4 separate regions of the Homo sapiens genome follow, and all the other regions are linked to region 3. The links come from fine-mapping of genetic effects on gene expression. A gene starts in region 3. Each other region holds a variant in brackets. All regions are shown on one strand. Distances are from middle to middle. Region 1 overlaps DGKH (diacylglycerol kinase eta). Region 2 overlaps DNAJC15 (DnaJ heat shock protein family (Hsp40) member C15). Region 3 holds the start of DNAJC15 (DnaJ heat shock protein family (Hsp40) member C15). Region 4 overlaps LINC00400 (long intergenic non-protein coding RNA 400).

Region 1 (2,593 bases), 960 kb after region 3:
TATGAACGTTTACATATGAGGAAAAGTAAGGTTTGAAGAGGTTATATAACTTGCCTAATAGGAACTCAAACTGGGACTCGTGTTCTTCAATGCATTTCAGGGTTTCATTTGTAAATTTAAAAAAAAAAATCCAAATCAGATTTATTTCTTTCTTTAGGATACTTTCTTTTTGTGTTCTAAGTAAAACGGTCTTTGTATTTTACTAAAGAGGGCCCCCAGCTGTGCATACATGAGCTAGAGATTTTCCCCAGCAAAACCTGTTATTAACGCATCTCTAATGCATATCTAAAATCATTAAAATTATACAGTTTCTTTTAGTACTCTTTCTTTTCTTTCTTTCCTTTTTTAAATTTGAATGATTAAAGTTTAATTCTTGGACTTAACCTCTGCCAACAGTCTTCTCTTCCTTCCTACCTCAGCTGCTCAGTCCCATGGTTACTCCCTAGGACCTGACTCGAGCCCTCACTCTTCATCCAACATCATTTCCAGAGCTTGTTACTGTATCCACCCACGCTTTTCCTGGCACACACAGACAAACCGCAACAGTGGTTTGACCCTGTCCTCCACTTCACTTACTGCACCCAAGCAGCTGAACATGATCCCACACCAGGCTGACAGCGCTTAGAGTCCTGGTCACCCGGCTCAGGTGTGCCCTAAATGCAACTTGATATTCACACTGCTGCATTTCTCTAGTCTATTCCCTTTCCCACGCCCCTGTTCAAGCATTTCATACCTTTCCTCTAGCCTCAGACCTCCATACCCTCTCCATCTTGATTCTCAGCTGACGACCTAACTTCATATTCCACTGGGAAAATCAAAATAATCAGAAAATAATTTCTAGAAGTGCCAACCTCTGCCCCTACTGCATTTTATGGATAAAGTGGCTTGTATGGATAAACTGACCTGCTCTGAGGGAAGCCCAGCTCCTCACGCCATCCCACCCCATCTCGCATATATAAGGACATTGCTCCAGTAATTCTCCTCTCTTTTTTTGCATCATTTAATCTTTTCTCTCAGCTAGATTATTCTCCTCAGCCCACAGTATATATATATATATATTTTTTTTTTCAGACGGAGTTTTGCTCTTGTTGCCCAGGCTGGAGTGCAATGGTGCGATCTCAGCTCACCACAACCTCCGCCTTCCAGGTTCAAGAGATTCTCTTGCCTCAGCCTCCCGACTAGCTGGGATTACATGCATGCGCCAACAAGCCCGGCTAATTTTGTATTTTTAATAGAGACGGGGTTTCTCCATGTTGGTCAGGCTGGTCTCGAACTCCTGACCTCAGGTGACCCACCC[G/A]CCTCAGCTTCCCAAAGCGCTGGGATGACAGGCGTGAGCCACCACATCCGGCCAGCCCACAGTCTTTCTCCTAAAAAAGTCATTTCACTTTTTTAAAAAAGCTGTAGCTTGACCCCAGCATCCCTCTCCAGCCACTGCTTCATTTTTTCCCTCCTCTCGTTTAAAGGGTTTGTTTTAGATGCTGATTTTAAAGATCAAACTTGCTAATGGATCGGCAATAGTATTCTTTTAATATTAATATGGTAACTAGCATCTATTAAGTGCTAATTATGTGCTAACCACTGTGCTAAACTGTCAAGGAAATTGTCACAGCAACCTCTCTACTGCTCCCCTGATGTCTGACTTTTTTTCCTGCTACTCACTTTCCCCTCACTCCCTTCCCACCAGCTGGAATGTGTCAGCTGTTCGGGAATGCTCATCCCTGGAATGTGTCAGGTGTGTCTCTTCCTCAAAACCTTTGCATTTGCTGTTCTTTCAGCTTGCTCTGCTCTTCCTCCAGATATCCTCATGGCACTCTCTTCAAAAAAAAAAATAGGTCCAGATACATTGCCCTAGCAGGATTTTCAAGTGTTCCCAAGACCTTTTTCAAAGGTCCATGAAGTCAACACTATTTTCACAATAATCCTAAAATACACACAGCTTTTAATATTCTGCAATGCACTCATAAAGCTCCAAAGAACATTTTTTAAACCTGAATGTAGAATCATTTTACCAGTTTTTATGAGAGCCACCAAGAAATACCAGATTTTTCTTCCCATAATAGCTAAGAACATATCACTCCATCCCCTTGTATCAACTACAAGTGAACAGATAAATAAAAACGCAGATAACCTGAGATTCTACACTTTGAAAGTATTTCAGCAGATACCTGGTTTAACCCGAGAACTGTTTCAAGTACATGCCATTTATTCAATCTTCAAAAATAATTTGGATTTTATGCCTGAAGTTGGCCGTAACTAAAACTGCCTTAATTACATCTCCTACAGAACTACTGTCACACAAAGTTGAAGTCTGGATTATGTCCTGACCTCACAAGGGAGGACATCATAAGGACACCTCCCAAGTGGATGTAGGTGAGGGGAACATATTGCAGACCTCACTCCCACCCACATCAAAGACTGATAGAACATATTTCTTTGGTTCCCCCAAGGAAAGCTAGAAAAGCTTTTCCCCCTTAAAATCTAGAGGGCTTTTTTCCCGCTGGTAATACGACTTTATAACTGGTCTTGCTGCTCTGGCTACCCGGGATCAAATTTACAACTCATCTCTAGCTGTGCAAGACACCTCACTCTATAT
Region 2 (2,593 bases), 26 kb before region 3:
CCCTGTCTCAAAAAAACTAAAAAATTTTTTAAAATTTTAAAGGAAAGAATAAAAGTACTTATAAAGTTTCCTGTGGAAATAGTAAGGCTGTTAGATTTACAAGCAATTAAAACTGGCCGGGCAGAGTGGCTCATGCCTGTAATCCCAGCACTTTGGGAGGCTGAGGCAGGTGGATCACCTGAGGTCAGGAATTCGAGACCAGCCTGGCCAACATGACAAAACCCCGTCTCTACTAAAAATACAAAAAATTAGCCAGGTGTGTTGGCAGGTGCCTGTAGCCCCAGCTACTCAAAAGGCTGAGGCAGGAGAACTGCTTGAACCTGGGAAGTGGAAGTTGCAGTGTGCCGATTATCATGCCATTGCACTCCAGCCTGGGCCACAGAGCAAGACTCTGTCTCAAACAAATAAAATAAAACAAACAAACAAACAAAACTTTAACTGGCCCAGAATAATATGAATTGTTTCCTAGAAAAAAATTTATCTACTACCTAACATTTTTTTATTTGCTAAAAAGCCATTGGTATTTCTTTTCAGACACAGATTTTGTGAGCTGTAAAACAGTAACAATTCTCCTCAAACTTCCACATATATGAATGACTCAAACAGGAAAAAGAAACTAGTTTCAAATGTAGAAAACAGAAGTATAAGAGAAAGGGAGTCAATCTAAGTCTAAGTAAGTAACTCAACACAGAACTCCTGACCATACCTTTCTTTGGCTTTAATTTTAAAAATAAAATAACATCTAAAACACACTGGGGTTTCTGAATAACCTATGGTTTACTTGGCATAACTGTGTAAATATCAGATAATTCCATTAACATGTTCTCTATTTTACTATTGTTGAAAAACAATTAGCATGCTTTCATCACTATGCTATTTCTCGTTTACTAAACTTCAGTATCATATCCTTGGGCTAAGAGGATCTGTATTTTGTTTCTTTTATATGCACAACACCATATCTGATCCAGTTGTAAACATGAAGATGTATTTCGACTTTTATTTTGAATGTTTTTTAAACAATGATGCTTTAAAACTAAACTGCCAGTAACAGAATGAGAAAAAATGACATTGAAAAGACAATATAATAGTAAAATGGTGAATCAGGCATAGTGTTGGTACCACAACTACAGTCATTTTCTACCAACTAGGCAATAACCAGGTTAAATTCTGCAGAAACAGAAATGTTGCTGTTTCTTTGACTTAGGAAAAATTGGGATATGAAAATAAAAGAAATCAGGAAGTATGATTTAAAAAAGTAAGTATATTCCTGTACCCTAGTATAGGCTAAAACTGCCGTAAGTGTCACACATATGTAGCAGTAGATGATGAATATGGATGCCATATGAGGCTTTTTTTTTAATTCTTTAAAAAAAAATTCACAAGGCTGCCTTGGGCAAGTTTTAGTTTTGAAACATTTTATCTGACGATTCAGACGTTTATGGCTTAAAAAAGTAGCTAACATTTTCTAGGCCTGCAGAAAATCTAATTATTGGATATATTTTTGTTGTTGTTACACAAAATTAGGGTA[C/G]CACATACTTCTACTTATAGAACAAGCTGATCTTTCTATAAATATATGCACATATATACTTAAAAATGAAATCAGTTACAAATGCCACCAAAAAAATTCTTTTACAACTGGTCCAGCATAATGTTTGGGAACAGTGGTCTCTATGTAAGAAAAACCAAAAACCTAACATTCTACTTACATCAAATTTAGAAATTTAGTTTTTAATAATCTGTCATGGTCACCATGGGGGAAAAAAAGATGATATATATTCAAAAAACAAATTTATGTGATATGGGACAAGGGTATTTAAGCTTTTTGTTTTTTGTTTATTTTTGAGACAGAGTTTTGCTCTTGTTGCCCAAGCCAGAGCGCAATGGCGCAATCTCGGCTCACCACAACCTCCGCCTCCCGGGTTCAAACGATTCTCCTGCCTCAGCCTCCCCAGTAGCTGGGATTACAGGCATGAGCCACCATACCCGGGTAATTTTTTTTTTTTTTTTTGTATTTTTAGTAGAGACGAGGTTTCTCCATTTTGGTCAGGCTGGTCTTGAACTCCTGACCTCAGGTGATCCACCTGCCTTGGCCTCCCAAAGTGCTGGGATAATAGGCGTAAGCCAATGCACCCGGCCTAAGTTTTTAAAATTCATTACTTTAGAGTACACTTGTCAAAAATTACAAAAAGCATAGCTTTCACTGCATTCTCTCTGACCATATACAATGCATGAATATTTTGGATTTAAAAACTTCCAGGCATATGCATAATAGCACTGCAGAAAGCAACAGATGGCAAATTGTCAGTGAAATCGAATGGTTTCAAAATGGTGGCAGAGTTACCACAGAGAATCCTCATCCTAGACTGCTAGGTCTAGCTAAAGAAAAATCTTATGTTCTCACTAAATAGCATCATTACACAGTTATGGTTTCTGATGCCCGCTGGCCCTTCAAGCCTACTCTGTACCATCATCTTCCTCATCATTAATTAGTACCCTTTCCCATTCCTCATGGCTCGTACTAAACTTTTACTTTCTAAATAAGCCTTCAAGTTTTTCATCCATGCAGCAAGCATGAGCCCCTTATACTTTCTAC
Region 3 (2,593 bases):
CCTCCTGCCTGGGCTTCCTAAAGCGCTGGGATTACAAGCCTAAACCACCACTTGGGCAATATTTCATATTGAATGTTGAAAATTACCATGCAACTGTGCATATATCAGGTTAAAGAAAATACATGGTTAAAATCAAACCCACCTGTTTCTCTTCAGTTGTTTAATATGGCTACAAAAAACTTAAAAATATGCCGGACGCGGTGGCTCACGCCTGTAATCCCAGCACTTTGGGAGGCCGAGGCGGGCGGATCACGAGGTAAGCAGATCGAGACCATCCTGGCTAACACGGTGAAACCCCCGTCTCTACTAAAAATACAAAAAATTAGCCGGGAGTGGTGGCAGGCGCCTGTAGTCCCAGCTACTTGGGAGGCTGAGGCAGGAGAATGGCCTGAAACCGGGAGGCGGAGCTTGCAGTGAGCCGAGATCGCGCCACTGCACTCCAGCCTGGGCGACAGAGCGAGACTCCGTCTCAAAAAAAAAAAAAAAAAAAAAAAACGTAAAAATACGTATGTGGCTCACAATATGCTTCTGTTGGACAGTTTTCTGTTAGACCCTTCCTTTTTCCAGCTCTACAGTTCATCCTGAATACACCACTTGGAGTTTCCAACTGGGCCCTGTTTCTGTGCCGGAGACTTTGGAGACAGTAGTCCTGGTACCCGAAACACTTTTTCCCCTTCTCCTTGCTGAATGGACTGTTTTTATTCATTCAGATCTTAATTTTTAACTACAGCTTTCTCCAAGAAGCGTCCCTGATCCCACCACGTCCCCTGCAAGACGTTTTTAGGGCCTCCTATGAGATAGGAAAATCCACATACAGCACTTATTTTACTGTATTTGCAATTGCCTGTTTTCTGGTTTGTGTCCCAGACAAGACTGGAAGCTCCTTGAGGAGACAGATCCTCAGAACTGCTCCGTCTTCCACGCCCAGGCGTCAAAGCCCAGCACAAAGCGGTCTCTCCACTGAACAAGTGAGCGCTAGGGCACAGACCGTGAGCGAATGCGGGGGAGTACAAAGGTTCAAGGGTGAGGCGGTAGAGGGGGCTGAAGCAGAAACTACAAGGGAGCCAGAGAGGGGTGGGGGCCGCTGGCAGGACTCACCAGTCTCTGCTGGTCGACGTCGGCGTCTGGCCGTTTGGCCGAGGGCTGCAAGTACTCAGCGTAGCGCAAACTCTCGCCAACTGGAGCGATGACACCACGGGCAGCCATGGCAAGGCGGCCCGGAGACTCAAGGCGCCGCGGCAGTGACTACGAGGCGGCCGTAGGGACAAACTAGTTAGCGCGGTTTCTTCTCGCAGATCCAGTGGACTCTGCGCTCGTTGTGCTATTAAAGGCGAGGTTCCCGGAAGATACCCTTCTCACCCGAGCTGGGTAACGTGTCCCGTGCAAGCACGGGGTCACACTCCGAAAGGAGCCAAGGGCACTGGGACGTTCTTGAATCACACTCACAGGCGCAAAGCCAACGCGGACCCTCAGGGAGCTTTATATACTTGGGCCTGGTCCCTCCCCAGGCCGCCGTAAGGGACTGGGCTTAAGCCCTGCGAACTGATGTTGGTCGAATCAGATGACTGCCCAGTAAGCTCGGAGTCTAGCTGTAGTGCCTGAGGGTGGGCTTGCCTGAGCTTTCCTGACCCCCTTCCGGGCAGCCTTTCTTCCCACTCTCAACTTCTGTTCGCACTTCTGTTTAATGCCACAGTTCTACCACCCCGGGAGAGAAATTAAAGAGGCAATTTGCTTACTCCACCCCCAAGTAAATGGCTGTATTTAAGGTGAAATTACACAGAAGAAAGTTGTGGCCGGGTGCGGTGGCTCACGCTGTAATCCCAGCACTTTGGGAGACCGAGGCGGGTGGATCACACCAGCTTGGCCGACATGGTGAAACCTCGTCTCTACTAAAAATACAAAGATTAGCTGGGTGTGGTGGTGCGTCCCTGTAATCCCAGCTACTCAGGAGCCTGAGGCAGGGGAAAAAAAGTTGTGAGCAAGTAGGTAAATCTTACTCTCCCTCAAATGAGTTTGTGCTGATTTGTATATATAAAAGCCCATTTTATTATTAAGCTTTTTTTTTTTTTTGAGATGGAGTCTCGCTCTGTTGCCCAGGCTGAGTGCAGTGGCGCAATCTCTGGCTCACTGCACCCTCTGCCTCCCGAGTACCTGGGATTAAAGGCACGTGCCACCACACCTGGCTAATTTGTGTATTTTTAGTAGAGACGAGGTTTCACCATGTTGGCCAGGCTGGTCTCAAACTCCTGACCTCAGGTGATCCGCCCGCTTCAGCCTCCCAAAGTGCTGAGATTACAGGCGTGAGTCACCGCGCCTGGCCTCCATCAAGTTTTTAGAGCAAAAATTAACCAGCAGTTGAAGCGTATGGTGTTTTCCAACTTCTGTACCAACGTGGCAGCTCTTTGGCTCCTTATACCCTTTGCAAAATCAGCTGACAGGAAGAAAAAGCTTTATTTTTTTTCTATTCCTGAATTTAAAGTTTTGAGGGTCTATTAATTTGTTCACTTAGTTAATATTATTAGCATGTCTAAGAAGTTAGGTCCTAGAAATTTACAATCTTGTAGGGAAGATAACACTGACACAGAATAATAGT
Region 4 (2,593 bases), 97 kb before region 3:
TCTATGTAATAAAATGAAAATCCCTCAGGGGCCCAGAACCCCAGGACAGGAACTGTGTAATGAGACATAATCAAATAAAAAGTAAAGCACATAGGAGCATAATCACAAATGAATATAGCCAGTTGGACTTTGTATTAGGGCACTCCAGAGAAACAGAATCAATGGGAGGTGCAGATAGAAGGGGAGATCCATTTTAAGAGATTTGCTCAGGAGGTTATAGAGGCTGGAAAGTTGAAAATCTGCCAGGTGGGTCACCAGGCTGGAGACCCAGGGAAGAAGTCACGCTGCAGCTGAAGTCGGAAGGCTGTCTGCTGGCAGAATTCCTTCTTGCTTGGAGGAGGTCAGTATTTGTCCTATGAAAGTCTTTGACTGACTGGATAAGGCCCACCCACATTATGGCGGGCAATCTGCTTTACTTAAAGTCCTCCCATTAGAATGTTAATCTCATCCAAAAACACCCCACAGAAACATCCAGAATAATGTTTGACCAAACACCGGGGCATTACAGTGCCCAGCCAATTTGACAAATTAACCACCTGCTCAGGGGAACCTTGTTTCAGTCCCCACCTCTGCCCCACTGGTTTAGGGGATACCCTTCTCTGCTCCCAGGGCCCATAGAGTCTTCTTAGAGCCAAGGCTCACGGCCTATCCAGCTGCGTATCCCAGTGACTAGCATAGGGCCAGGCACATAGTAAGTGCTTAATTAATGCTTATTGAATGTACAAGAACTAAGAGATTGTAGGTGCTTAGTGATTTCACTGATAGCCCTTCTGTCATCTTCTTGAACTAGGAGGATGCAGGAGTCCTTAGTCTGTCCGCCAACATCTGGACTTAGCTCCACCCAGGAATATACATGGCAGCATGGAGACCACCCACCTGCTTTCCCACTTAACTGGCCATGTGATTCAAGGCAGCATACTTCACCAATCTGGCAAAGAGCAGGCACTCAACACACAACAGCTCTCATTCCATAAAACCAGGATTAGCCAGAGAAATGCCTGCAGGGAAAGTTGACCAGACAGTGTGTATTCTCACACACCCCCAGGAAAGTCTAGAGAATCTTTGGCCCAGGCTTAGCACAAAGCAAGACGTGACAATGTTGGGGAGGACAATCAGGGCACTGTTATTTGAATCACTAAAAAGTGCTGGACACATTTGATTCCATCACTAAATCATCACAACAACTTTCCAGGCAGGGAGGGCTTTTGAAAGTGTTTTGTGCCATGAGTCTATGGACCTCTCGTCAAATAATGTTTTCAACTGCGTATAAAAAAAATTATAAAGGAAACCAATTAATTCAAAATGCAGTTTTTATAAAATTAAAAAACATTTGTGATATCATGGTGTATGTGCCTCATTACTAATGCATTAAATATCTAGCGGCAAGTTTAAAAGCAACTGTAATTTTGAACTGGATGAATACAAATGATATTTGGAGTTATCTGTAACAACTGTAATGTAATATAGGGGCGCAGTGGCTCACGCCTGTAATCCCAGCACTTT[G/A]GGAGGCTGAGGTGGGCGAATCACAAGGTCAGGAGATCGAGACCATCCTGGCTAACACAGTGAAACCCCGTCTCTACTAAAAATACAAAAAATTAGCCAGGCGTGGTGGCGGGCACCTGTAGTCCCAGCTACTCGGGAGGCTGAGGCAGGAGAATGGCGTGAACCCGGGAGGCAGAGCTTGCAGTGAGCCGAAATTGTGCCGCTGCACTCCAGCCTGGGCGACAGAGCGAGACTCTGTCTCAAAAAAAAAAAAGAAAGAAATAGAAAAAGAAATATGTGTGGCTTGTTCTGGTGACAAAGTCACAGGCTGCTAACAAATGTTGCTGACATTCATAATAAAAGAAAATGCTAAATTTTAGTTAGAAATTTGTGAAAAACAAAAATGATTTTTTTTCCAATCCAAGTCCAAAGACCCCCCTCTATTTCATTCACAATTTCCTTGGACTCCATTATTAAGGTAAATCTTTGTATCCCCAATTTACAAATGAGGAAACACGAGTTCAGAGGAGTTAAGCAACCTTTCAAAGATCACACAGTAAGTGAAAGAGCCAGGGCTCAAACTCAAAAGTGCTGTTTGCCCCTAAAGTTTGCTCTATTTTCACTATACACAGCAGTGCTTCTCAATCATGCTCACTTGTGAATTTGTTAAAATGCGTATTCCTAGGCTCCACCACTCGAGATTCTGACTCAGCAGGTCTGTGGCAGGGTCTGAGATTCTGCATTTCTGACCAGCTCTCCGATGATGCTGCACTGCTGATCCTGGGACCACACTTGAACTTCCCAATAATGATTCGGGGAAACTCTATTCAAAATAATGAGTCTCCCAGTCCTTGACTTCTGAGCGGGTGAAAGAGACGATCACTTTGGACAGTTGCACTGAAAGTCAGAGAGCCTTCACAGTCAGATGTGCGGGTGCAGGCTGGTTCTCACCACCCCGTTTGGCTGTCTCCTTTCCCCTTTCCTTACCATCACTCTTTAAGCTGCCTGCTTTGATCATAATCTTTCTCCAGGCTGCCCTTTTTTTCTGTTTCGCTTGTATAAAAGTGCTGTGGCAGAAGAAAAGCCCTCAGAGTGATTTGCCCTCAGTTAC

The links. PIP is the estimated chance that this variant, and not a neighbour inherited with it, causes the effect. A credible set is the group of variants that fine-mapping cannot tell apart.
Region 1: its variant is the best candidate, but not a certain one, in a credible set for the expression of DNAJC15 in uterus (GTEx, PIP 0.79).
Region 2: its variant is the best candidate, but not a certain one, in a credible set for the expression of DNAJC15 in whole blood (INTERVAL, PIP 0.63).
Region 4: its variant is the best candidate, but not a certain one, in a credible set for the expression of DNAJC15 in subcutaneous fat (FUSION, PIP 0.57).

What each region holds. Positions count from the first base shown.
Region 1 is chr13:42,062,415-42,065,007 of GRCh38, reverse strand. All of the region lies in intron 1 of DGKH (diacylglycerol kinase eta), which reads right to left. Among named protein-coding and RNA genes, the nearest start is that of DGKH, 15 kb to the right of the region's middle. The variant G/A (reference allele first, on the strand shown) is at 1,298.
Region 2 is chr13:43,047,741-43,050,333 of GRCh38, reverse strand. All of the region lies in intron 1 of DNAJC15 (DnaJ heat shock protein family (Hsp40) member C15), which reads right to left. Among named protein-coding and RNA genes, the nearest start is that of DNAJC15, 25 kb to the right of the region's middle. The variant C/G (reference allele first, on the strand shown) is at 1,529.
Region 3 is chr13:43,022,240-43,024,832 of GRCh38, reverse strand. DNAJC15 (DnaJ heat shock protein family (Hsp40) member C15) reads right to left here and starts at 1,247. Exons shown (of 6, transcript NM_013238.3): 1 at 1,099-1,247. The coding sequence starts at 1,206. RefSeq lists enhancers at 749-798, 1,309-1,358, 1,369-1,428.
Region 4 is chr13:43,119,506-43,122,098 of GRCh38, reverse strand. All of the region lies in intron 1 of LINC00400 (long intergenic non-protein coding RNA 400), which reads right to left. Among named protein-coding and RNA genes, the nearest start is that of LINC00400, 7.6 kb to the right of the region's middle. RefSeq lists an enhancer at 2,181-2,593. The variant G/A (reference allele first, on the strand shown) is at 1,504.